Linked DNA regions of Homo sapiens. The protein of the gene in region 1 purifies or fractionates together with the protein of each later gene. This does not show direct contact. Each region holds a gene or a part of one and is shown in the gene's direction. Other genes may lie near its edges. The genes, in order: DTWD2, POLE, PCDH7, FREM2, DCAF8, PC and NOCT.

What was found.
Region 2: the proteins of DTWD2 (region 1) and POLE purify together in Homo sapiens (affinity purification with mass spectrometry, with the first as the bait; one large-scale study listed by BioGRID). This does not show direct contact.
Region 3: the proteins of DTWD2 (region 1) and PCDH7 purify together in Homo sapiens (affinity purification with mass spectrometry, with the first as the bait; one large-scale study listed by BioGRID). This does not show direct contact.
Region 4: the proteins of DTWD2 (region 1) and FREM2 purify together in Homo sapiens (affinity purification with mass spectrometry, with the first as the bait; one large-scale study listed by BioGRID). This does not show direct contact.
Region 5: the proteins of DTWD2 (region 1) and DCAF8 purify together in Homo sapiens (co-immunoprecipitation; one large-scale study listed by IntAct). This does not show direct contact.
Region 6: the proteins of DTWD2 (region 1) and PC purify together in Homo sapiens (affinity purification with mass spectrometry, with the first as the bait; one large-scale study listed by BioGRID). This does not show direct contact.
Region 7: the proteins of DTWD2 (region 1) and NOCT purify together in Homo sapiens (affinity purification with mass spectrometry; one large-scale study listed by BioGRID and IntAct). This does not show direct contact.

Annotation. Positions count from the first base shown.
Region 1 is NC_000005.10:118,838,548-118,842,047, reverse strand, and holds part of DTWD2 (tRNA-uridine aminocarboxypropyltransferase 2), read left to right. Parts: intron 1-960; coding exon 961-1,131; 3' UTR 1,132-3,500.
Region 2 is NC_000012.12:132,642,343-132,645,842, reverse strand, and holds part of POLE (DNA polymerase epsilon catalytic subunit A), read left to right. Parts: intron 1-1,816; exon of another isoform or gene 1,817-1,865; coding exon 1,866-2,006; intron 2,007-2,282; coding exon 2,283-2,436; intron 2,437-2,512; coding exon 2,513-2,619; intron 2,620-2,846; coding exon 2,847-3,023; intron 3,024-3,113; coding exon 3,114-3,337; intron 3,338-3,445; coding exon 3,446-3,500. UniProt on the Homo sapiens protein: Catalytic component of the DNA polymerase epsilon complex. Participates in chromosomal DNA replication.
Region 3 is NC_000004.12:31,136,369-31,139,868, forward strand, and holds part of PCDH7 (protocadherin-7 isoform d precursor), read left to right. Parts: intron 1-3,500.
Region 4 is NC_000013.11:38,879,077-38,882,576, forward strand, and holds part of FREM2 (FRAS1-related extracellular matrix protein 2 precursor), read left to right. Parts: intron 1-1,207; coding exon 1,208-1,711; 3' UTR 1,712-3,500. UniProt on the Homo sapiens protein: Extracellular matrix protein required for maintenance of the integrity of the skin epithelium and for maintenance of renal epithelia. Required for epidermal adhesion. Involved in the development of eyelids and the anterior segment of the eyeballs.
Region 5 is NC_000001.11:160,224,550-160,228,049, reverse strand, and holds part of DCAF8 (DDB1- and CUL4-associated factor 8), read left to right. Parts: intron 1-2,386; coding exon 2,387-2,459; intron 2,460-2,930; coding exon 2,931-2,988; intron 2,989-3,500. UniProt on the Homo sapiens protein: May function as a substrate receptor for CUL4-DDB1 E3 ubiquitin-protein ligase complex.
Region 6 is NC_000011.10:66,951,884-66,955,383, reverse strand, and holds part of PC (pyruvate carboxylase, mitochondrial precursor), read left to right. Parts: intron 1-947; 5' UTR 948-1,135; intron 1,136-2,915; 5' UTR 2,916-2,954; intron 2,955-3,500. UniProt on the Homo sapiens protein: Pyruvate carboxylase catalyzes a 2-step reaction, involving the ATP-dependent carboxylation of the covalently attached biotin in the first step and the transfer of the carboxyl group to pyruvate in the second.
Region 7 is NC_000004.12:139,018,781-139,022,280, forward strand, and holds part of NOCT (nocturnin), read left to right. Parts: intron 1-3,500. UniProt on the Homo sapiens protein: Phosphatase which catalyzes the conversion of NADP(+) to NAD(+) and of NADPH to NADH. Shows a small preference for NADPH over NADP(+). Represses translation and promotes degradation of target mRNA molecules.

The DNA of each region.
Region 1 (3,500 bases):
TGGCCGCATGTAAGAGAACCCTTACTACATTTGTTAATTCATGTGGGGTTTTCTTTGTGGGTTAATACATTTTCACGTAGACATTGTGAATTTTTTGTAGTTAAATCTATCAGTTTTTTCTTTGTTTCTTTTGTGCTCCTTTAACAATCTGTTTAATTAAGTTTTTTTGCTGTTATTTTTGAAAATATCTTCATCAGGGGTCTCAGGCCCAAGGAAGGAATCTCACCCAAAATATGTTTAAAACACTGGCATAGTGTTGTTTTTTTTTTAATTTTTGAATTTGAATAACTTCAGGTAGAGCGTATACTCCAGTTGTATTACAGCCGCCACTATTCTCTGTTGGCTTGTAAAGATCCACCCAGTTTACGTGTTTCTGTTACATGGCTGGCCTATAGGTATTTGAATTTAGACAGTTCAGATATTGTTAGAATAATTTCAAACGCACCAAGACCTGGGCATCTAACTTGTATGTGGTCCATGGCACTAATGTGAGAGAAATAGCAAACCGTTTACCCATTGCTGCCATCATCTAATTGTTGTCAGGTGTCAGTAAGCTTGCATTAATTTGTCATAGAAACTGAATTGACTATTTTGGTGTACTTATCTTTGTATTTAAATGTCTCATTTAGTCTCCTTGTTATGGATTCAATTATAATGGCAACAATTTTTTGTGGTGTTTGAATAATGTATAAAACTAATGCCAGACTTTATTACCTATGTGGAAAATCAGTATTTGTATCTTTTTAATAAAATTCCTTAGTGTAATATTAAGGCATGAATTTTAAAGACATTATTTATCTAGAAATAATTATATATTTATCAGAGTGCCTAGTGTTTCTCATAGTTAAAAGCCAATCATAATAAAAGAAACATAGTAACTCCTATTTCTGAATGAAAAATATAGATAGAATATCATGATTTGTCACAGATACTTTTTTAGTGTCTTTTTTCTCTTGACAGACTTTGCTTCGCCCTCTTCAAGCTTTATGCTCCTTTCAACTTCAGCATGGTGCCCAAATTCGCCTCAGCAAGGAACACCTTCTGAAAAATGGATTATATCCTAAACCAATGCCAAAGAACAAACGCAAACTCAGGAAAATGGAATTGTTAATGAATAGTGTTAAAATTTAGTACAGTTATTCTTTTGGTGCTAGCTTAACTGTCTTCATCTAACAATACCAAATTAAGTTTTCATATAGTTAAGGTCTGTAGGTTTTTGACTTGCTAAAGAAGGAGAATTGCATACTAATCTTACCCAGAAGAAGGAAGTAAACCAAATATTCATAAATACAAATAAACAGAAATTCACTGGCTCACTGAAAAGCAGGATTTCCTACTGTACTTGTTTTTAAAAATGTGCCTCTAATACATGTTTTCAAACCCAAATTTAAAATATGATTTGTTGTTGTGATAGGTTAGAAGTTCTTACTTGTAAAATAGAAGAAAATTGTTGTAGTGGATTGGAACGGTGTTGTGTCCATTAATGTTTATAAATAATTAGGTGTAGACCAATAATATAAGATTCCTACATCAGTTTGCAGTCCTGACTTTACAGTTTGAAATAAGTAGCAAAAGAAAATTATGATAATCAAGTAATTTATTATTTTGTAAAATAGTATAAAGGAATAAGGAAATTTTAAGTATTGTTTAGGGGCCAAATTTGAACTCAGCTAATATGATTTAAGCGCTCTATTAATTGCCCTGATTTTTAAAGAGGTGCATGTAATTTTGAAATAGCACACATTTTCATTTGTAATCACTCTGGATAAATTTGTATTTTTCAGTGTTCATTGAACAGGCTTATTGACTCTGGTAAACTTATTTTATTGATGTTTTCATATGGAAAATAATAAGTGGAATATGATACAATTGTTATTTTCAGAACATATTTCTTTAGGGCTATTTAATATAACCTTTTTAACGAGCAAAAACTTTCCATTTGAGAGAAAAAATTCTTCCTGCTCTGTGGGAAAATATTTGCTGAGATTTTGTATAGAATAAGAGACATGTATGTAACATATATGTATATTCAGCACAAGTCTACTGCAATTATGTACACATTTTGGCAGGAAGAGGGGATTTTGTTTAGTCTTTGTTTATGAGTTCTAGAGTTTCCTGTATCTAGTGTTAAGTTGTAAGGAAAAACTAAACATGCCATTTAAAGGTAAACTTGGTAACTATTTATAGAGCATACACCAATGATTATTTCTCACAGTTTTCATGATCATTTGTTTATTATTTACTTGGATTAGACTCATTAAAAGGTATAATGCTGGTCACAATTAGAATGCTAATATTTGGGGAAACTATGCAGAAAATATTTTAAAATATTAAAAGAGTGCTGGCTTCTATTGTTGATTTATTTTTGGATTTAAAAACAAATTAGGGCTGGGCCCATTAGCTCACACCTGTAATCCCAGCACTTTGGGAGGCTGAGATGTGAGAATTGCTTGAGCCCAGGAGTTTGAGACCAGCCTGGGCAATATGGTGAGACTCCATCTCCATACAAAATTAAAAAAAAAATAATTAGCCAGATGTGGTGGTGTGCACTTGTAGTCCTAGCTACTTGGGAGGCTAAGGTGGGAGGATCGCTGGAGCCCAGGACATCAAGGTTGCAAGGAGCTATGTTCATTCCACTGCACTCCAGCCTGGGCTACAGAGTGAGACCTGTCTAAAATAAATAAATAAATAAACAAACTAGCTCATTTACAATGTAAAGCACTTAATATCAAATGATTATTTGGTGTACTAGAAAAGAAACAGCATATAATAATGTATAATAGTTTCTTAACAAGTGGGGCTAAAATCATTTTGTAGTAATTTTTCACATTGATATTAAACTTCATGAGTTTCTTTTAGTCATTATTATTATTATTATTATTATTTGAGATGGAATCTCGCTCTGTCGCCCAGGCTGGAGTGCAGTGGCGCAATCTTGGCTCACTGAAAGCTCTGCCTCCTGGGTTCACGCCATTCTTCTGCCTCAGCCTCCTGAGTAGCTGGGACTACAGGTGCCCACCACCACGCCCGGCTAATTTTTTGTATTTTTAGTAGAGATGGGGTTTCACCGTATTAGCCAGGATGGTCTCGATCTCCTGACCTCGTGATCTGTCTGCCTTGGCCTCCAAAAGTGCTGGGACCGTGCCCAGCCATCATTATTATTTTTTAAAAAGAAAACTCCCCCTACCCCCAGTATACCATTTTGTATCTCAAAATTTTACTTTATTGATTTTTAAGAGTAATTTCTACTTTTATCTTTTAAATAAAACATTTTAGAGTATTTTTGAAGACTTAAAAAGCTTAAAATTTAGTGTTTTTGGAAATGTATAAAATTTTCTTGAAGTATGTATAGTTTTCCAAATTACTTTACTGACCTGTTAACTCACTGTACTTGTTTTTTACTTATTTTTTCCTGACCTCTTAACAAGGTGAGTCCATTTAATCATCTGTGGTATAAAATGCTTCTCTAGTCACCTGTTCTCATTAAACAGTTGTAAGTA
Region 2 (3,500 bases), on another chromosome or scaffold:
AACATAATTTTTCATTTCTTTGATTTTGTGTGTGTGTGTGTGGGTGTGTGTGTGTGTCGGTCTAATTTCATGTTACTGGAAAAATCTAACCCTACTGGTTCTCTTCTCGCTTGAGAATTATTCAGATTTTCCTGGTTGTTGTTACGCCAAATAACGCTTTATTGCAACCTGGACATTTTACATATTTGAGACTTTGGGTATTTTTAAAAATCCTTTAGCGTGTCAGGTTTTTTTGTTTGTTTGTTTTAGCAACAACCAACACGGTTAATTCCAGTGCCCAAGCTCTTCCTTGCCTCTTTGTGCAAAGCTTCCAATGTCAGCTCAGCCTCCAGAGCCTCTGCTGCGTTGTTTTGGGTCACCTGTGCAAGTGCAGCTCGTAGTGAGCCTGGGACTTGTGCTGCTGGTTCATGCATGAAGCTAGGGTGCTCCTCTCCAGGATTCCCCCAGCCCCCCACACACGAAGCTAGGGTGCCCCCTCTCCAGCTCTCCTCTCCAGGATTCCCCCAGCCCTCCACACAGGGAGCTAGGGTACCCCTCTCCAGCTCGCCTCTCCAGAATTCCCCCAGCCCTCCACACAGGGAGCTAGGGTGCCCCCTCTTCAGCTCTCCCAGACCCCCCAGGACCCCACACAGGAAGCTAGGGTGCACCCTCTCCAGCTCTCCCAGACCCCCCAGGACCCCACACAGGAAGCTAGGGTGCCCCCTCTCCAGCTCTCCCAGACCCCCCCAGGACCCCACACAGGGAGCTAGGGTGCCCCTCTCCAGCTCTCCCAGACCCCCCCAGGACCCCACACAGGAAGCTAGGGTGCCCCCTCTCCAGCTTTCCCAGGCCCCCCCAGGACCCCATTCACGAAGCTAGGGTGCCCCTCTCCAGCTCTCCCAGACCCCCCCAGGACCCCACACAGGAAGCTAGGGTGCCCCTCTCCAGCTCTCCCAGACCCCCCCAGGACCCCACACAGGGAGCTAGGGTGCCCCCTCTCCAGCTCTCCCAGACCCCCCCAGGACCCCACACAGGGAGCTAGGGTGCCCCTCTCCAGCTCTCCCAGACCCCCCCAGGACCCCACACAGGGAGCTAGGGTGCCCCCTCTCCAGCTCTCCCAGACCCCTCCAGGACCCCATTCACGAAGCTAGGGTGCCCCTCTCCAGCTCTCCCAGAGCCCCCCAGGACCCCACACACACACTCTGGCTCCCCCAGGGGCTCTCTTTCCGTTTCTCTGACTAGGAAAATGTGATTTCTCTCAGTTTTTGCCATCTACACCCTCAGGTTAAACCCATGAGAGAATGGAGGAAGATGAACTGGGAACCTCCCCAGATCAGTGTTGACTGCTGTATTCTGACAGCTCTTGTCTATTCTCAGAGGCTGCAGGTTGCTTTTCAAAATTGCGTCCAGAGGCCAGGCATAGTGGCTCACACCTGCAGTTCCAGCGATTTGGGAGGATCACTTGAGTCCAGGAGTTTGAGACCAGCCTGGGCCTCATAGTGAGACCTCCTTTCTACAAAAAAAAAAAAAAAAAAAAAAAGCCATCCGTGGTGGTGTGTTCCTTGTCCCAGCTACTCAGGAGGCTGAGGCTGGAGGACCACTTGAGCCCAGGAGTTGGAGGCTGCAGTGAGCTGTGATCACACTGCTGCACTCCAGCCTGGGCAACAGACTAAGACCCTGTCTGTAAAAAATAAATAAATAACATAAAAATTACATCCAGAGTTTTTAGTTGTAATCATTGAGAGAGGTGGACTGTGGCGTGGTGGGTGTACCCCGTCGCTAGGGGCACCAGAAGTCTAGGACTCCGAATAGCGTGTGCTTTGTGTGTGTACCACAGACATTACCACTTACGCCCAGTGACGAGATCATCGTCGTATTCTCGCCAGGTAAATCGGGTCCTTCCTCGCTCCAACATGGTCTACAATCTCTATGAGTATTCAGTGCCAGAGGACATGTACCAGGAACACATCAACGAGATCAACGCTGAGCTGTCAGCGCCAGACATCGAGGGCGTATATGAGACTCAGGTGACTCCCCAGCCACCCTCGACTGAACTGGGGGAGGCTCCAGCAGGGTGGTATGGAGGAAAGAAACCCGCCCAGGGTGTGGGCTGGGGAACAGCAGCGACAGTGGACTCGTTCCCACAGGTGAGGTGAATGTCAGCAGTGTGTCTGCCAAAAGTGGCCTTTGGGCAGTGGGCCGGGCAGCTGCAGGGGCACAGCCACATCCCGGGCAGAAGTCACGTGGGCAGCCAGAGCCCCCACCATCCAGCCCTTGCCGGCCTGTCTGCCCGATTCTTCCAGGTTCCGTTACTGTTCCGGGCCCTGGTGCACCTGGGCTGTGTGTGTGTGGTCAATAAACAGCTGGTGAGGCACCTTTCAGGCTGGGAAGCAGAGACCTTTGCTCTTGAGCACCTGGAGATGCGCTCTCTGGCCCAGTTCAGCTACCTGGAACCAGGTATGGCCTGCACCAGCCGCCCATCATGTGCCTGCCTCCCACACATCTGGGGTGACGGTCTTGTTTCCTTCTCCAGGGAGTATCCGCCATATCTACCTGTACCACCACGCACAGGCCCACAAAGCGCTCTTCGGGATCTTCATCCCCTCACAGCGCAGGGCATCCGTCTTTGTGCTGGACACTGTGAGTCCTGGGCCCTCCATGGCAGCACATTGGCTGGGGCAGGGTTTGGGGAAGGAGGACATCTCCCAGGGTGCCCAGGCCCTCCAGGTCTTGTCCTCAAGGGCCTTTGCCCATGAGTGCTTGTCGTGATTGAATTGGCAGTGCCGTGGCAGTGGTGGAGTCTGCCCCAGGGCTGCCCCCACTTCCTCCTGCGCAGGGGGAGGCTGACGTGGCCTGCGTTGGTCTAGGTGCGCAGCAACCAGATGCCCAGCCTTGGCGCCCTGTACTCAGCAGAGCACGGCCTCCTCCTGGAGAAGGTGGGCCCTGAGCTCCTGCCACCCCCCAAACACACCTTCGAAGTTCGGGCAGAAACTGACCTGAAGACCATCTGCAGAGCCATCCAGCGATTCCTGCTCGCCTACAAGGTGAGAGTGGTTGGGGTCTTGCTGTGTGAGCCCCATCTTCTTTGAGGCTGGGTCCACCCAGGTCTTTTCTTCCATTTTGCCTTGACCCAGGAGGAGCGCCGGGGGCCCACACTCATCGCTGTTCAGTCCAGCTGGGAGCTGAAGAGGCTGGCCAGTGAAATTCCTGTCTTGGAGGAATTCCCACTGGTGCCTATCTGTGTGGCTGACAAGATCAACTATGGGGTCCTGGACTGGCAGCGCCATGGAGCCCGGCGCATGATCCGTCACTACCTCAACCTGGACACCTGCCTGTCGCAGGCCTTCGAGATGAGCAGGTGAGCACAGTACTGTCGTTGTGGGCCAGTGGTCCCCAGGCAGAGCCGGCCTCGGTGGTCTCTGTGACCCGGCGATGTGCCCCGGTGCTGACCTGTGCCCTGGTGCAGGTACTTTCACATTCCCATTGGGAACCTACCAGAGGACATCTCCACATTCGGCTCC
Region 3 (3,500 bases), on another chromosome or scaffold:
AGCTTCTACGTGGTTGAGCCTGGAATCACACTGAGCAATACTGGGACTCTAAATCTCCTGCTCTTTTTAAAAGTTCATTGCTCTTTGCAGGAAGGGCCCAGGAATGGTACAGATGATGCCACAGCAAGGATTGATTGATTAGCCAGTGTTCCTATACTCTTCTATTTTGGTTAAATCAAGTGATCCTGTAATAAATTAAAAAACTCTTTGGAAATCTTAATGGCCTTTTTGTGGCCAGAGTGACACTTACTTAGATAACTATAAATTTCTCCTCTTCCAGAAAGTGTTCCTACATTTAGAGGATCACAAACTGCTGGTCTGAGTCAGTGATTCCCGCCCTGACCGTGAACTGTGATGTGTTTGCCTGTCCAGTCTTCCTAAATTCCCCAAACCGGCAAAAGGCAGGGATATTTTAGTTATTTACGTGAAAAAGCCAAGTCCAACTCACTTGTGCATCTTTTGGATCTTGTCTCCTCACCTCCAATCTTTATTAACTATGATAATAATCATCCAAAAAAAAGTTTTGGTTAACCAGCATTTAATTATTTTTTTCTCAGCCCTATCATATAAAATAAAAGTAAACAATTTTCTAACAGGTATTTTAAAATAAAGCATTTATTTAATCATTTGAGTAAAAGATATTTTCATTTAGACTAATGACAGTGAAGGGAATGTTAAAACATTTGTTGTAAAACATTTTTCACTGATCTTTTGTTTTTCTTGTTTACCCTTTTGTAAAACCTTTTGTAAGTCCACCAAATTTCACTAGCATTTAAGTGTGCTTCTAGAAAAAATAAGTCTTTGTGTAGAGGGAAGTCAAGAAACATAGAAAGAAAACCAAACACTTTAAAAAGGAAAAAAGGAAAAAGTTCCTGCATGTGGTTTTGTTTTGTGTTGTTTTGTTATTTTGTCTCTAAAGGAAAGAAATACCAGGCCGGGAGCAGAGGCTCACGCCTGTAATCCCAGCACTTTGGCAGGCTGAGGAGGGCAGATCCCTTGAGATCAGGAGTTCGAGACCAGCCTGGCCAACATGGCCAAACCTCATCTCTACTAAAAATACAAAAAATTAGCCTGGTTTGGTGGTGCATGCCTGTAGTGCCAGCTACTCAGGAGGCTGAGACATGAGAATCGCTTGAACCCAGGAGGCAGAGGTTGCAATGAGCCGAGATCGTGCCACTGCACTCCAGCCTGGATGACAGAGCGAGACCCTTCTCGAAAAATAAAATAAAATAAAACAAAATAAATAAAAAGAAGAAAATACTTCTTATTTTTTTGCAGATTTTGTCAAGTAATGTTAATCATATGCCAGAGCTTGATGTTAATGAACAAATTGGAGGAATGGTGTGGGCATCTGGGAAGTCCATACGTTGACTTAACAATCCGTTTATCTCACATGGCCAGCAAATTAAATAATATGTGAGTTAAACAAATAAATGATACATACAGTTTTACATATCTGATCTTTAAGAAAACTCATTGGAAATATTTTAATACTAAATATAACATGTTCATACCTTCTCTCAGCAAATGCAAAGATCCATGTATCTCTAGCCTCAAGCCAAGGACCTGGAGTAGAGTGAGTGTCTGGGATTCTGACAGGATGCAAAACTCAGCATACTTAAAATCCTTCCTGGTGCAGAACTGTCTTCAAGTCTTAATGAGTCTACTGTGCTCTCCTATAATAATTTTGTCTCTAATGGGTTCTGAATTATGTAAGGCATCTTCTGGAAACATGAAATTCCTCTCTAAACCTGGGCTTTCCTTGTTATTTCTAAAGATTCTATTATCTATCTGTCACTTCTTGTTGAGGTCATTGTAACAGCATCTAGCAGCATCTGCCCACCACCCATCCATCTACCCTGCCTAGTAAAAACAAAAATACTATGTTTTTGAGAGATAATCTGACTTCTTAAGAAAACATATAATTTTCTCCACTTTCCAAAATGTATAGTTTTAGGGAGGTTGTTTCATTCTTTTCACTAAGTAGTAAAATTTGTGACTCTGTGACATCTATTTCCTGTGCTACTCAGATTTTTTTTTCTCTTTCTCTGCAGACTGTAGCTTGTTCAGATGGTTATGAGTAGCAGTCATTGACCTCTAAATAACTCAGCTGTTATATTTTAAGAAGAAGCAATGGGTTGTAGTGGGAAAACAGTAAATTGAAAGTCAAAACACTTATTCTTCGGCTTCAGCTCTCCCGTAGCTTGGACCCGTTCGCTGTTCCATCCTCCTTGCTATATGATTGAGGTGCTAAATTAAAGAGATGAACTTCATGTGGGAAGTACTTCATGTGTTATGAATTGTTCTAAGATTGTTTGCTAGTTTGATGGCTTAAAAACTGTTACTTTCTCCCAGCACTTTGGGAGGCCAAGGCAGGTGGATCATTTGAGGTCAGAAGTTCAAGACCAGCCTGGTCAACATGGTGAAACCCCATTGTATTTTGAAACAATACAAAAATTAGCCAGGTGGTAGTGGTGCGCGCCTATAACTGTAGCTACTCAGGAGGCTGAGGCAGGAGAATCGCTTGAGCCTGAGAGGCAGAGGTTGCGGTGAGGCAAGATTGCACCACTGCACTCCAGTCTGGGCAACAGAGTGAGATCCTGTCTCAAAAAAAAAAAAAAGAAAAGAAAAAAAACTCTACTTTCAAGAGAGATATTAACCTTATGTCTAGGAAAGGATCTTAACTTTCTAATAAGATGCAATGATTCTAGTAAATAGCATAACTTGGTTAAAATGGAAACCTCTACAAGTAATGCTAAGCAAGAACAGGATTTGATGGATACCATTTTTTTACTTCCAGTCTTCTCAAGGTTTGATATGATTGATGGGGTATGCGGGCGTTGAGAAATACAGAAACAACAACAAAAAATTCTCTAAGGAACTGGCTTTATTGTGGAAAATGCTTACAGAGAATACTATTTTATTTTCCTGTTGTTCATTTGTATTGATTTACTCAATGCCAGCTAAGATTTGTGATCAAGTGTCTTCCATCTTCACTGAGATCAAAATTTAAAACAACAGTACTAAAGCATAAAATAATGTTCTTAGATGTTAGAAAAGACATCCTTCAGTGAAAGACTAAGAAGAGTTACTAATTGTGAAAGGCTTTCCTCTATAATGCCACAAAAAAATAGGACAGTTTAAAAGTATGTCTTTTATGGAAAGAAGAAATAATTGCATGTGATGTTTATCTAAGATCCTGCATAAATTTTGTGTTGAAAAAATTCATAATATATGCATGCATAATTAAAATAAGAAAATATGTAAACAAAGAAAAATACTTTTCCACTCATGCCCTTCTTTAATAAGTTGCATCGTAATACAGATTGCATTTGTTAATCATTGGTATTTCTTTGGAAGATTCACTTTAGTCAACCAAATTGGAAGTTTTGATTGCTTGTGATGAATCTCTTATAGCCCTTCTTGATTATTTTTCTAAATTTGATGACAAACATTGCAACATGTCTCAGCCAATTAGGCTTGTCAACTTCCTCTGTGGT
Region 4 (3,500 bases), on another chromosome or scaffold:
AGTAATATTGCATACAGTTAATGGGAACATTGAATAAGATATGGCAAATAAACTACATAACCCTATGCTGGGCATATGGTGAGCACTCCATAAACCCAGCGTTTATTATTTTTGTTAGCAATATATCTGGCTTTCATAGCTCTTATCACTTTTATTAATGTATTAATATTATTTTAAGACTATGTGTAATGAAGAGTCTTATTTAGCCCAGAATATAAATCTGTGTCTGACAGTTGAGTAATCTGCTTTTCTTATTCAAAACTTCCTTCCTGCTGACTTTTCACCAATATCTTAATTAGAGTGATCTTGTGTGAACTGCTGAACTCAGGAAAGCAATTGTGCACAGCTCCACTCTCAAAGATTTCAGAAACCAAGATACAAATTCCTGACTCAGGGATCAAAGGTGGAGGGAAACACAGGCAGCTGCCACAACACTGAGCAAATGCCACAAATTTCAAGAGGTGCTTACACTGCAAATCTCTGCCGAAGCAAGTGCGGCTTTTAGGATATTTACTGAAAATTAACCCGACAGGATGGCCTGGAGAAATGTGTTATTTTCATTCAACCTAAGGAAGGATCTTAAGAAAGCATGTTTGTTATTCTCAATCTTTTCAAACAAGAAGTTGAAGTATGATATGTTTTATTTTTATTTTTGCCATTAAATCTCAAAGCATCTGACCTTCCTAAATCTTGCATGCTTCAAAGACTCATCAGAAAATTCATCCTTTTCCAAAGCCCCAGAAAAGCTTGAAAATTGATTTTTTCCCCCTATGGTCTTATATGCAATAAGCAGCAAGACACAGTGAAAAGAGTCCTGGGGTTCAGAAGATTTGAGCTGTAGTCCTGCCTCTGCCACTAACTGGTTGAGTAACATTGGGCAACTCACTTAACTGCTGCATATTCTAATTTACTCATTTTTTTAGTGAATAAGCTAGACTGTATAATCTATTAATAGTTCTTTAGAACTCTCTCATTCTATGACAACAAGTATCACATATTCACTCCCTTAAGAGTTGCACAGGATATATCACAGAGTGCTTTGCACAGAGCCTTGCACCTAGTACTCATTCAAAAATATTAAGTAAGTTAATTCTGCAGACTAAAATCATTTATTAATATCTCTGCCATTAATTTCTCTTGCAAAGAGTCGTGGATTAGATTGACATGGTATCTAGTATTTCCTAATAAATAGAGTTGTGCTTTCTAGGTCGCTCTAGGCCGAGAATGGTATATACATACGATCTATACAGTGAGATCGAAAGACAATGCCAATCGAGGTATTGGCAAAAGAAGTGTGGAGTACCATTCTCTGGTGAGTCAAGGAAAGCCCCAATCCACCACCAAGAGCCGGAAGAAGAGAGAGATCAGGAGCACACCCTCACTGGCATGGGAGATTGGTGCTGAAAACAGTCGAGGAACAAACATCCAGCACATTGCCCTGGACCGCACCAAGAGGCAGATCCCCCATGGGAGAGCACCTCCAGATGGCATCCTCCCCTGGGAGCTCAACAGCCCCAGCTCTGCAGTCAGCCTGGTCACTGTGGTGGGAGGCACCACGGTAGGGTTACTCACCATCTGCCTCACTGTCATTGCAGTGCTGATGTGCAGGGGCAAGGAAAGTTTCAGGGGGAAGGATGCCCCGAAAGGCTCCAGCAGCAGTGAGCCCATGGTGCCCCCACAGAGCCATCACAATGACAGCTCAGAAGTTTGATGACTGCAGGTAGAATTCAACCTTTTCCGTAAGTGCCTCGGAAAAGATCACAATGGAACCTTAAATACTTCTGGTAAACCATAGAGAATGGAGGATGGCTGTGATGAAGCTGCTTAGAGAATATGACTGTACTAATGGAGTTTGATTTGAATTCTCCATACTCTTTTTTGCATCAAAGGACAAATTAAGGCATCTTTCCTCTTGCCCCAAAGGCAGCAACAACGTACTCATATGTACACAGAGCCATGATGTGAGGAATGTACTCCTCATTTTAGACATATTCTCTATGCAGTGGAGATAAATCTATTAAAAGGTGCTAACAGACTCTCTTACAAGTGTAAGAGGAATCTACTGTTGCTATGTTAGTGTGAATGTTGAAGGTGCAATTATCACATTGTTTATTAATTGTATAACAGATTATTACTAGAAAGGTTTTTGTTGCTAGTCTGGAAAACTGGTGAACACACTGTTTATTATGACAAGTTTTCAAATAGGTGAAGACAGCATAGAATTATGACCAGGGTGGCTCAACCCACAAATCAACTGATCTACTACTTGGGAGACAGTGGAAGGAAAGATAGAGGGAAGGAAGTTCACTCACTTGAATTTGAATTGCTTCTCATTCTCATCAGACTCTCCTTGTTTTGTTTGCATATTTAATTTTAAATTAAACCAAAGAATATGTTAATTCTGAAAGAGATTTTTAAGAGATGCTGCTCTGTTTTGGCATATAGTGAGTAATGGTAGAGCTCTTGCATGGTAATATACCTTATTGGTGCTCAACATTTGTGGGAAATTAGAGGGTTGGTGAGATTTTGGTGATGAATAAATGCCATAGAGTTAGAGTCACTACAAGACAATGTTCTCTAAGAACTGAGCCTAGATGTTTGCAGTATTGAACCCATAAATGATAATAAGAAACATTGTTACAGATGGTGAAGGGAGAAAGTGGTATTTATTAATATAATGTGTATAATCAGAGTGCCTCTTATACATACTTTATAGAATAAAGGAACATTTTGACAGATGAGGTTATCCCTCGGAGTAGCGTAATCACACAATAACATTTAGAACTTAAATTGGCTACAGGACATTTTATTAGCTTTCTATCCAGCATCTGGTCCAAACGATGGGACTCTCTGCAACTATCATTCCAGAAATGGTCTTGGAGGTGGCCAGAATCATTGACCATATTTTTATTTGGTTCAAGAAGACATCGCTCTGGCATCCCCAGTTCAGTGAACTGGTACAATGTGGTCCCTCTCAATATTTAAAAATATAATTTGTAACAGTGCTTACCATTCACCTCCCAAAGCCAAGGAACTTGAGTGAGCTTCCTTGGCAAGCCTCCCATTGCCTTTCTGCATCAATGTGTTTGTTACCAAATAGCAGAAATTTCGCTTAGAAGGGGAAAACTTCAGCTTTCCAAAAGCTAGTAAACATGTTTCAAAGAAAAATAAGGTCAGGAGAAAAAGAATAATGCCTACAGATTATCCTTCAGATGCTGGCTAGAATCCCCTTTGACTTCTAGCCATAAGCTGGCCACATTGGACATCTTGGTCACTGCAGAATTTTAAAAGGCAAACTTCTCAGAACAGATGTGCACATCTTAATTTGGTGTCTGTAAGTATCAACCATTTCTTGATCAAGATAAGGAAGCAACACTGATACTGAGAGAGAGGTCATATGTCCAATAGTTGCCTTTCTTCTCTTAGGCAGCTCTGCACTTCATGTTCAGTTTTTTAAAAATAGACTGTAGTATCCTTTCATTGGAGAATTTACAAAAATA
Region 5 (3,500 bases), on another chromosome or scaffold:
GTGTGGTGGTATGCTCCTGTAGTCCCAACTACTTGGGAGGCAGAGGAGGATCTCTTGAGCCCAGGAGTTTGAGGCTACAGTGAGCTGTGATTACACCACTGCACTCCATCCTGGATGACAGAGTGAGACCCTGTCTCAAAAAAAATAACTAAAAGTAAAATATAAACTATCAAGGGCCTATCATATGTTCAGAAAGTGGTAGGAAAGTTTGTATTAATCTTTCTATGCTTACTGTCTATCACAGGGCTTGACAAACTGTAGTGCTTGTTTTTATAAATAAAGTTTTATTGGAACACAGCCATGGCCTTACTTTACATGTTGTTTATGACCACTTTCATGCTACAATGGCAGAATTCAATAGTTTTAATAGAGATTAGATGGTTTGCCAGTTTACCAGCTTAAAACATTTACTGTCTTGTCCTTTAAGAAAAAGTTTGCCAAACTCCGTTCTAGCATCATATGTAGAATATAGTAAGCTATTAATAAACACTTAGTTGGGGTGTAGTGGCTTATACCTGTAATCCCAGCACTTTGGGAGGCTGAGGCAGGAGAATCTTTTGAGGCCAGGAGTTTGAGACCAAGCTGGGCAGATGCTGTCTCCACCAAAAAATAAAAATATTAGCTCAGCATGGTGGTGTGTGCCTGTAGTCCCAGCTACGCGGCAGGTTGAGGCGGGAGGATCGTGTGAGCTGGGGATGTCAAGGCTTAAGTCATCAGTAACCTAACTGCCAAAGCAAACAAAGTACTTTTCAAGTCTTTTTCTCTACTCTTGACATTATTACTCCTTCCCTGAAGCACCTTCTCTCCTTGATGTCCAACCACTCCTCAGTGTTGTTCATGGGTGTGTCTTCCTTTCTCCACCCATTAAATGCTGATGTTCTCCAGTAGCTCAGTCTTCAGCTCTCATCTTACTCTATACCAGGGAATTTTAACTTGAAGTACAAATATTATGTGAACCTCCAGAAAGTATGCTTATGTGCATTTTTCTGGGGAGAAGGGACTAGAGTTTTCATTATATTCTGAAACAGGCCAGAGATTCTAAAGGGCGAAGGGAAAATCTTCTCTGTATTTTCCCTTGGAGATCTAATTCCATTACCAATGCTTTAACTACCACCTTTCACACGGATATATGACTTACATCTGTGTCTGCAGACCACACTTATTCTGAACTCTAGACTTACACCTACTTAACAAATGGATATAATTAACTGATGACTTCAGCCAGAGAAGTCTCAGTGGTGAGTTGAGAACCAAAACCAGATTAGGATGGACTGAGAAGTGAATAGGAAGTAAGAAAGTGGAAATATTGAATGTTGATTGTTCTTTTCAGTAGTGTAACTGTAAGGGGAAGGAGAAAAAAAGCAATAGTAGGAAAGGACAGTCAGCAGAAGGATTTTTAGAAAGTGGCCAGCTGGTGATGAGGAAGAGGTTGAGAAATTAGATAATCATCAAACAAGGTCCCTGGAAGGATGAAATGAAAAGCATTTTTCAAGAGATTGGCTCTGAGATTGGAGGAGACTGGGTGAGAACAGATACTGGATCTGTCTTGTTCCTCACTGTATTTCTAGCACCTAGCATAATATTTGACACATAATATGTGTGTCCTCATGAGTTTAAAGCTTGGATTAGAGAGAGGAAGGAAGGTGAAGGTGTAGTGTGCTTGATAAGAATGAGGAAAGGAGAGGGAGTCTTGAGGATATGGGTGGTAGTTTTTAATAATTATTGTGGGGTATGAGAGGGAGAACAGGCCAAATACAGTTTTAAGGAGGGATTACAGACCCATTGACTTACATTAAGCATGGTTTCTGCCCGTGAGTAACCTTTTTCGGTAGGTAATGTACATGTAAAAAGCTCCATACTAATGTTAGTTGTTTCAGTGAAAAGTAGCAGTATGTGATATAAAACTTGAGGAGAGAGATAAACCACTTCAAACTGACAGAATTGAGGATTGCCACTTAAAATGGGAAGTATGTGGATAAAGGATTTAAGGGTTTGCCTGGCCAACAGATGAAACTCTGTCTCTACTAAAAATACAAAAATTGGCCGGGCGTGGTGGTGTGTGCCCATAGTCCCAGCTATTTAGGAGGCTGAGGCAAGAGAATTGCTTGAACCCATGAGGCGGAGGTTGCAGTGAGCCGGGGTCATGCCACTGCACTACAGCCTGGGTGACAGAGCAGGACCCCATCTCAAACAAACAAAAGATTTAGGGTTTGGAAATGGATTGGAAAAGGGATGCCCTTTAAGGAAGAGCACAAACCAAAAGCTTGGTTTGGAAAATGTTGTTTATCTGCATCCAGCTGGCAGTTTCCTGCCACTACATCAAATTGCAGCTCTTCAAGGGTTTCGTTTGTACATTTTTACATTTTCATTGCTTTTCCAACTGTAGGATTTATGACCAGAGGAAAATTGATGAGAATGAGAACAATGGAGTACTCAAGAAGTTCTGTCCTCATCACCTGGTAAGATTCATGAAGGGCCAGTTGCTGCAGGCTTCCCTGACTCAACCCCAAGGCTGCACCTGAACTTGTTGGTATGGTGGGAAGAGCTTGGACTTTCAAGTCAGTCATCTGGATTTGAATCCTGGCTTTACCACTTACCAGCTTTGTGATCTTGGCAGTCACTTCACTTCTGATAGCCTCAGTTTTTTAATCGACAAAATAGAAATAAAAATAACTGCCTTGCACCTTGATGGTGAGGCCTAATGAGACAGTGTACATAAAATGGCTAGCACATGGATGACAACCAAAAGAAAGCCCCAAGATGCTACCCCCTGAGGTGGTCATGTTTCATCAGTTGTACTCTTGTCTCTGTCTGTCTTTCTCAAATCTCTGGGAGAAGATATAGGGGAGTTTGAAGGAAAAGCTGTTTCCTGAAGATGGTATAACAAATGGGGGGGTGGGGCATCAGTCAGTATCTGCTCCTTATTGCAGGTGAACAGTGAGTCCAAAGCAAACATCACCTGTCTTGTGTACAGCCACGACGGCACAGGTACGTGAGCAGGGCCCAGCTCCTAGGCTGGCATGCCCCCTCTGTCTAGGGAGCTGCTGAGCCAGTGAGGCATGTGCCCTCCAGTGCTCACCACTGTGCTATAGCTCCAAGTAGAGCAGCTGGGGAGTAACTGCTGATGGTGAGCACATAGCGGGAGGATACAGTAGATGACCCTTGGAGATGCCAGGTACCATTTGCAGAATGCTGCAGATGATATTTGGCAGGGCCTGTCCTGAAGCCCAGGTTGCTTGCCTGAGCAGGTTCTTATGCCTTTGACTCATTCCTGAGTTAATGGGTATGACCTTTTTGAGCATTCTGCTGCCCCTGGGTTGGCAGTGTGTTCTTAGTCTACCCTGTACAGTCGGACTTGCCTGGTGTTCCAAATAAGATGGGTGCTACACCTGGGTATTTGGAGGGGGCACTACTGGCAAGAAGCCCCACCCCAACCCCCACCTCCTGGTCCCTGCTTTTTTCAGCCTTTGCCTTCACTGCTATGTTCTTGTTCTTGGCAG
Region 6 (3,500 bases), on another chromosome or scaffold:
TGTCCTGCTCCTTGCTTTCACCCGGTCTCACTTCCAGTGCCCCAGGCACTGTGATAGGTACCTGTCCTCCCACCACCACTCATGGGGGCTCTGGGACCAGTGGCAGGGCAGGACCTCAGATTCACTACTCTTATCCCAAGCCACAGTTCCCTGTGTCCCTCTTCCCTCTGTCCTCTCAGTACCTAATAGTGCCAGGAACAAGTAGGTGCCTAATGAGTGTTTTGGGTGAATTAGTTGAAAAGGGGTCAAACTGGGAACCAGTGAGGAGAGAAGGGTGCAAGATGGGGAATACGGAAAGGAGTTACTTTTGGAGGTGGCAGGGATGGCCAGCACCAAGGTCAGTATGGCAGTAAATCTGGCAATCCACATTTCTCACTGGCACCTTCTGCATGGGCTGGAGGCCTCGTTCAGGTCAACGTTTTCTGTGTTTTTTTTTTTTTGGAGACGGAGTCTTGTTTTGTTGCCCAGGCTGCAGTACAGTGGCACCATCTTGGCTCACTGCAGCCTCTGCCTCCCGGATTCAAGTGATTCTCCTGCCTCAGCCTCCTGAGTAGCTGGGATTACAGGCACCAACCCTTTGCCTGGCTAATTTTTGTATCTTTAGTAGAGATGGGGTTTCACTATGTTGGGCAGGCTGGTCTCGAACTCCTGACTTCAGGTGATCACCTGCCTTGGCCTCCCAAAGTGCTGGGATTACAGGCGTGAGCCACTGCACCCGGCCTCTGGTCAACATTTTCATTGAGGATGAGCATGGCCTTCTCTTTGGCTGCCTCCCAATATCGTCCTGCCCCCATCTGAATGGGCCCCGTTTCTTGTATCCTGAAAGTTCCTGCTTTGGGGCAGGTTTCTCACCCAGAGGCCTCCTTCACAGCAGCAGGGCATTTTGCCTGCTCACTCTGAAACCTCACCTGGGCCTGACTGACCGTGCCTTCCTCTCTTTCTCTTAGCTGCCTTCTAGTCTCACCTGTGGACACTTTGCCAAAGGAGTCGGGCCTGACGGTGGAAGATGGGAAATGGCCAAAAGAATAAACCATTTCCTCTTACTTACCGAATGAAAAGCTTGCTTCATCTTGGCGTTCAAGACTCTCTAATATGATTCCACCTGTTGGGCTCTTTCTTCCATTTGCCTCCGCAGGTACCCTCTTCTGTGTCAGCCCCCATAGTGAGATTAGTCACTGTTACCCCAAACTCACTTCTCACGGTCCCCCCTCTGCTCTTGTTCTTGTTGACTTTGTTTTCTGCAGGGCCTTGCTTCTTATCTTGTCCTGTCAAAATTAAATTATTCTTCGAGACACAGGACTTTATTAAGGCTTGCCAAATCTATTCAGTTGGACTGGGCTCTCTTTTCATAACGATGATGATAAGTAATGATTTATTGTTATTAATAATAAAAGTCAACTACTGTGTGGTGGTGACGGCCTTGCTAAGCCCCTTACATACACATAATGTGATTATCACAACAATCCTATTACGAAGGTCCTATTAGATCCATCTCTTACAAATGACGGACTCTCATAGGTGAAACTCAGAGAGGTGAAATAACGCCCAGAGTAACACAGCCAGGCAGGCTAGGTGGCTCACTGCTGGAGTCCCTCTCACGTGCCATCCCATTTTTGCTTCTTTTAACCAGCCCCTAACAACTTGCTTTTTGGCACTTTGTGGGCAGGGCCTGAGTGTACATACAGTTCCTTGTGCAAGGCATGTGCTCAATAAATATTTTATTGACTTGAGTGCCCCAGACATTGAATTTCAGCCTTGACGTTATCTGTCAAGGCAGCTGGTTTTCTCTGAACAGGGATTTGAGCTTGCTGGCCTGTTTTTCCATTTTGCTGTTCATTGACTAGTGGCTAGGGTAGGTGTGGCTTTTTCGGAAATAAGCAGTCAATAAAACTCCGAAAAGTGATTACACAATACCAACTGTGGGCTCCCATGGGCATAAACACGAGGTGGGCTCTTACTTATGGCAGAGAGGGGTCTCTGCAGGAAAGGATTTGAGGAAATAGCCAGGAAATAGAGTACACATCTCAGGTCACGTAAGACAGCTCCTTATTAGTTTCAAGTTGTGGAGTGAGAGAAGAACCAGACTCCCAGTATTCAGAGGGAGCTCCTGAAGGATTAGAGACAGCTCTGCGGAGATGCAGAGAAAGCGGGCCTGAGGCTGGACGGAGTGGGCAGGAAGAGAAAGCACTTCAGATAAAACGAACTGTTTCTAGAACTTCTTGTTCATGTGTAGTGGGTGGCAGAAAAGGGTTTTACTTAAGCGCTTCCCACCTAGCCTGTCGGTTAACGTCCCAGTGTGTCCTCTGTGCCAGGCATGGTGCCACTGCTGTGCGTGTGCTGCCTCATTGGGTATTCCCTAGTACGCTGTGAGATGGGCATTGTTATTATTCCCATTTTACAGATGAGGAAACAGACTTTGAGTGATTACAGAGCGGCTGTCAGAGTAACAAGAGGTGCAGTCCAGGCAGTGGGACAGCACAGCTGGCGCTTCCAGCTCTGTACCCTCCTGGTGCCCTCAGTGGAAGCAAAGAAACAGTTCTTGGCCGGGTGCGGTGGCTCACACCTGTAATCCCAGCACTTTGGGAGGCCGAGGTGGGTGGATCACCTGAGGTCGGGAGTTCGAGACCAGCCTGACCAACATGGAGAAACCCCCATCTCTACTAAAAATACCAAATTAGCTGGGCGTGGTGGCACATGCCTGTAATCCCAACTACCTCAGGAGGCTGAGGCAGGAGAATCGCTTGAATCCGGGAAGCAGAGGTTGCAGTGAGCCGGGATTGCGCCATTGCACTCCAGCCCGGGTAACAAGACTGAAAAAGTTCTCTGGGTTCTAAAATCGGTGTTCTTGCCACTCCTGTTTTCTCTGGGAAGTTCCTGGAGCAATGAGGGTAATGCTGTTTTTTCTTTTGCTTTAGATAGTGTCTGCCTTCTGGAGAGCTGACCAAACACTAAGGGTAAGTCCTGTGCCTGAATCCAGGCTGGCGGGATGCATGGGGGTCTTCACCAGGAGCAGCTGTGGATGCCAGCAGTTTGGCATGTCAGGTCTTAAGCTCAATCAATAAAAAAAGGCTGCGCTCTGATTTGTGGATAATATCCGTTTAAGCAGTCTTGTCTGTTTCCAGTTGCTCCTGATTTTTACAGGAAAGTGACATCTGGCTCCCTGCTGGCCCCATTTGGCAGCTGGCCAGCCTCAGCAGAAGGCCCTGGTTCTGGAAGGGTATGGTCAGCTTGGGAAGCTGGGCAGGAAGAATCCCTGGGGCTGGGCCGTCTCTGAGAAGACCCCTTGAGTCAGCATGGAGAGCAGGCAGCTGTGGTGTGAGGTGGTTCTGCCAGCTGGTTGTAAAGTCACTTGACACGGGTTTCCAGAGGGTGACGCTCAACCTTTGCCAGTCACGGTAACAACGGGGAAAAAGGGACCTGCCCTTCTTCCCCTGCACATTTTACAGGCATGTGCCACCACACCTGGCTAAGTTTTTTTTTTTCTTTTTTTTTTTTGAGAC
Region 7 (3,500 bases), on another chromosome or scaffold:
CTCTTGACTTGGAAATGGCACAAGGGTGCAGGAAAGCAGGAAGTCCCTTTTGGGCTTCTAGAAATGGGTGGCATTTCAGCTGGCTCTTGAAGCATGGTTAGGATTGGAAGAGATTACTATAAAGCGTTTTGTTTGGAAAAAGCAGGAGTAAATGCAGAAAGGCATGAGACACACACAGATGAGGAAGGGTGAGAGAAGAGGCACTTTGCAAAAATGGACATTGTTTTCCAAAGAGCCTCAGACCCAGCACTAAGTGCTTTTTAATTTTAATTTTTATTTTTATTTTTTTTGAGACAAGGTTCTCTCGCACTGTTGCCCAGGATGGAGTGTAGTGGCGCCACCTCTGCTCACTGCAACCTCCACCTCCCAGGCTCAAGCAGTTCTCCTGTCTCAGCCTCCTGAGCAGCTGTGACTACAGGCACACGCCACTGTGCCGGGCTAATTTTTGTATTTAGTAGAGACAGGATTTCAACGTGTTGCCCGGGCTCGTCTCAAACTCCCCAGCTCTGGTGATCCACCTGCTTTGGCCTTCCAAAGTGCTGGGATTACAGGTGTGAGCCACTGCGCCCAGCCTATGAAGTGCTTTTTTAAAATGCAGATTCTTGGATCCTACTGTAGACCTATTAAGTCTGAGTCATTCATGATGGGCCCTGGATTCCACATAACCAAATGAAATGACAAAAAGAATAACTCCAGATTGTTCTTCTATGCCCTCAAATTTGGACATCTGGCACCCATATGTGAGAGAGACATTGAAGGGGCCAAAAGCTCCTCTCCACTCCTGAGCCTTGTGGTGGGGAGTAGTGAGTCCCGACAGCTGTCCACATTTGCTAATCAGTTCCTGCATAACTTATGCCCCTTGGCAATTGGTAGTTATTGGGAAGATAAGTACAGTCCCTTTGGAGTTATCAGATTCCAGGTTGTTAGAATTAAAAGGTGACCCTAGGGATGATCTCGGTGTTTGGCTTTCTTTTCTCAAGGATAGCAGCCCCCCTAAGAAGTAGCAGTTGCCACAGTTACTGTACTGGATGAAACGCAGTTGGAAGTCATCTGTGGATTTATAAATGCTATCCTCCACATCCCTCCTCCTCAGAGAATGAAGAGCTGGCTGAACTACTGTTCTCTACCATTAGAACATTTGCTTTTTTTCATGGTACAATTTATAGGCAAATGCCACCAGCTCATTTGAGAAGGCAGCTTTATTTAATATGTCCTTTAACTATGTGAGTAAACTGCTTATGAGAGAGAAGAAACGGGAAAGCTTGTCATTATCAAGCTGCTATGGAATAAATTGCTTTCCTTGTGGGAAAACTAATGTATGATTTTTCTGTTAGCATTCAATGGCAACAGTTTAAACATGGTGAACTGGGGTTCTTTGGGGTTAATAACCATGGCTCCAGATTCACATTCCACACACTTAACATTTGTAAATCATTTAACCTTGCTTGCTGTCTCAACACTAGACTTTACCTAGAACAAATGAATAAGATCAATTGATAGCAATTTATCCACAAGCTTTATTGAATAGTACATGTAAAAGGTGACATGACTAATTGCAGTGGGAGTTGAGAAGAAAGAAATCAGTGTGGCTGAATTTGTCAAGAAATGCTTTGCTTCTAATAGGTGAAAAAGGAGGGTGTTTTGGAAGGGGACAGTTTGCGGGGTGGTGGGGGCAGGCAGAGAAGACCACACACACAATGCCTGGAAGAAGGTGGCGCTCGCATGCAGGAGCTGTGGCAAGCATCTTAGGAAAAGGGGTAGAGGCAGAATCATTTGGGACAGTTGTTAAAATGCAGATTTCTGGCCTTTCAGCCCTCTGCTTGATCAGTTTCCTGTGGAGAAGCCCGGTGGAGTGCATATTTAACAAGTGCCTCAGGGGATTCTTCCAAAAAGATTAGGGAGTATTTATGAGCTCTGCCCCTCCTTTCCCCAAAGGTACTTATTCCTGGAAAGCTTGAGAAGCTCTGGAGAGGATTCTGGAAGAGCCTTAAGACCTTTGGTCTGGCCGGGCACAGTGGTTCACGCCTGTAATCCCAGCACTTTGGGAGGCCGAGGTGCGGATCACTTGAACTGAGGCATTCAAGACCAGCCTGGGCAACATGGTGAAACCCTGTCTCTACTTACATTAGAAAAAAAATAGCCAAGTGTGGTGGTGCACACCTGTACATCCCAGCTGCTTCGGAAACTGAGGCAGGAGAATCACTTGAACCCAGGAGGCGGAGGTATCAGTGAGCCGAGATTGCGCCATTGCACTCCAGCCTGGGCGACAGTAGGAGCAATACTCTGTCTCAAAAAAAAAAAAAAAAAAAGGATCTTTGAGCTTGGGGCCTAAGGCAGTTCAAGAGACCCCTGAGAAAGAACATTGACCCCCGAAAAAAGCAGCTTTAAAAAATTGTATATTTTGTCGAGACGGGTTTTGCCGTGTTGCCCAGGCTGGTCTCGAAATCCTGGGCTCAAGCAATCCTCCCGCCTCAGCCATCCAAAAGTGCTGAGATTACAGGCATGAGCCATCACGCCCCGCCAAAAGCAGCTTTTAAGAAAGGGAAGAAATTCCAGGGCCGGGCACAGTGGCTCAAGCCTGTAATCCCAGCACTTTGGGAGGCCAAGGCAGGCGGATCACCTGAGGTCGGGAGTTCGAGACCAGCCTGACCAACATGGAGAAACCCCATTTCTACTAAAAATACAAAATGAGCTGGGCGTGGTGGCACGCACCTGTAATCCCAGCTACTCTCAAAGAAAAAAAAAAGGGAAGAAATTTGCATATTAATGAAAGTTCAGTGAGAGGAAACTTGAGACTGAGGTTGTAATGGGAGTGTATCCATGTAGTCACTCTAAGTCACAACTTAGAGTAAAATGAGGTTTCTATGATGTTTACTAAAAGAAAAGTGAGGTAATTGTGTTCTGGCTTCTTGGAGTTAGGAAGGGAGATACAGCGTCTGTATTTGCTGTCAGGAGTCACTGGTGACTAATTACAGTTTTTCTGGTTTTTTTTTTTTTTAGACAGTTTTGCTCTTGTTGCCCAGGCTGGAGTGCAGTGGCGCAATCTTGGCTCACTGCAACCTGTGCCTCCCGGGTTCAAGCAATTCTCCTGCCTCAGCCTCCCAAGTAGCTGGGACTACAGGCATGCGCCACCATGCCCGGCTAATTTTTTTGTATTTAGTAGAGACAGGGTTTCACCATGTTGGTCAGGCTCCTCTCGAACTCCTGACCTCAGGTGATACACCCGCCTTGGCCTCCCAGAGTGCTGGGATTACAGGTGTGAGCCACCACGCCCGGCCACTAATTAGAGTTTATAGGGCTTTGATAGCCACTTAAGTGGTGGTTATACTTCAGTAGATAATTAGAAATTTGAAGGACAGTGTGCCTGGGCGTTTAGCCTCATAGTAAACCTGTTTGGACTTCCACGGAAAGCAGCTAAGATACTTTTTATTTATTGTTATTCTTAGAATGGGAGAAAATCAGCCTTCCCACGGAGGGAGTGAGACCTCAAGTGAAAACCT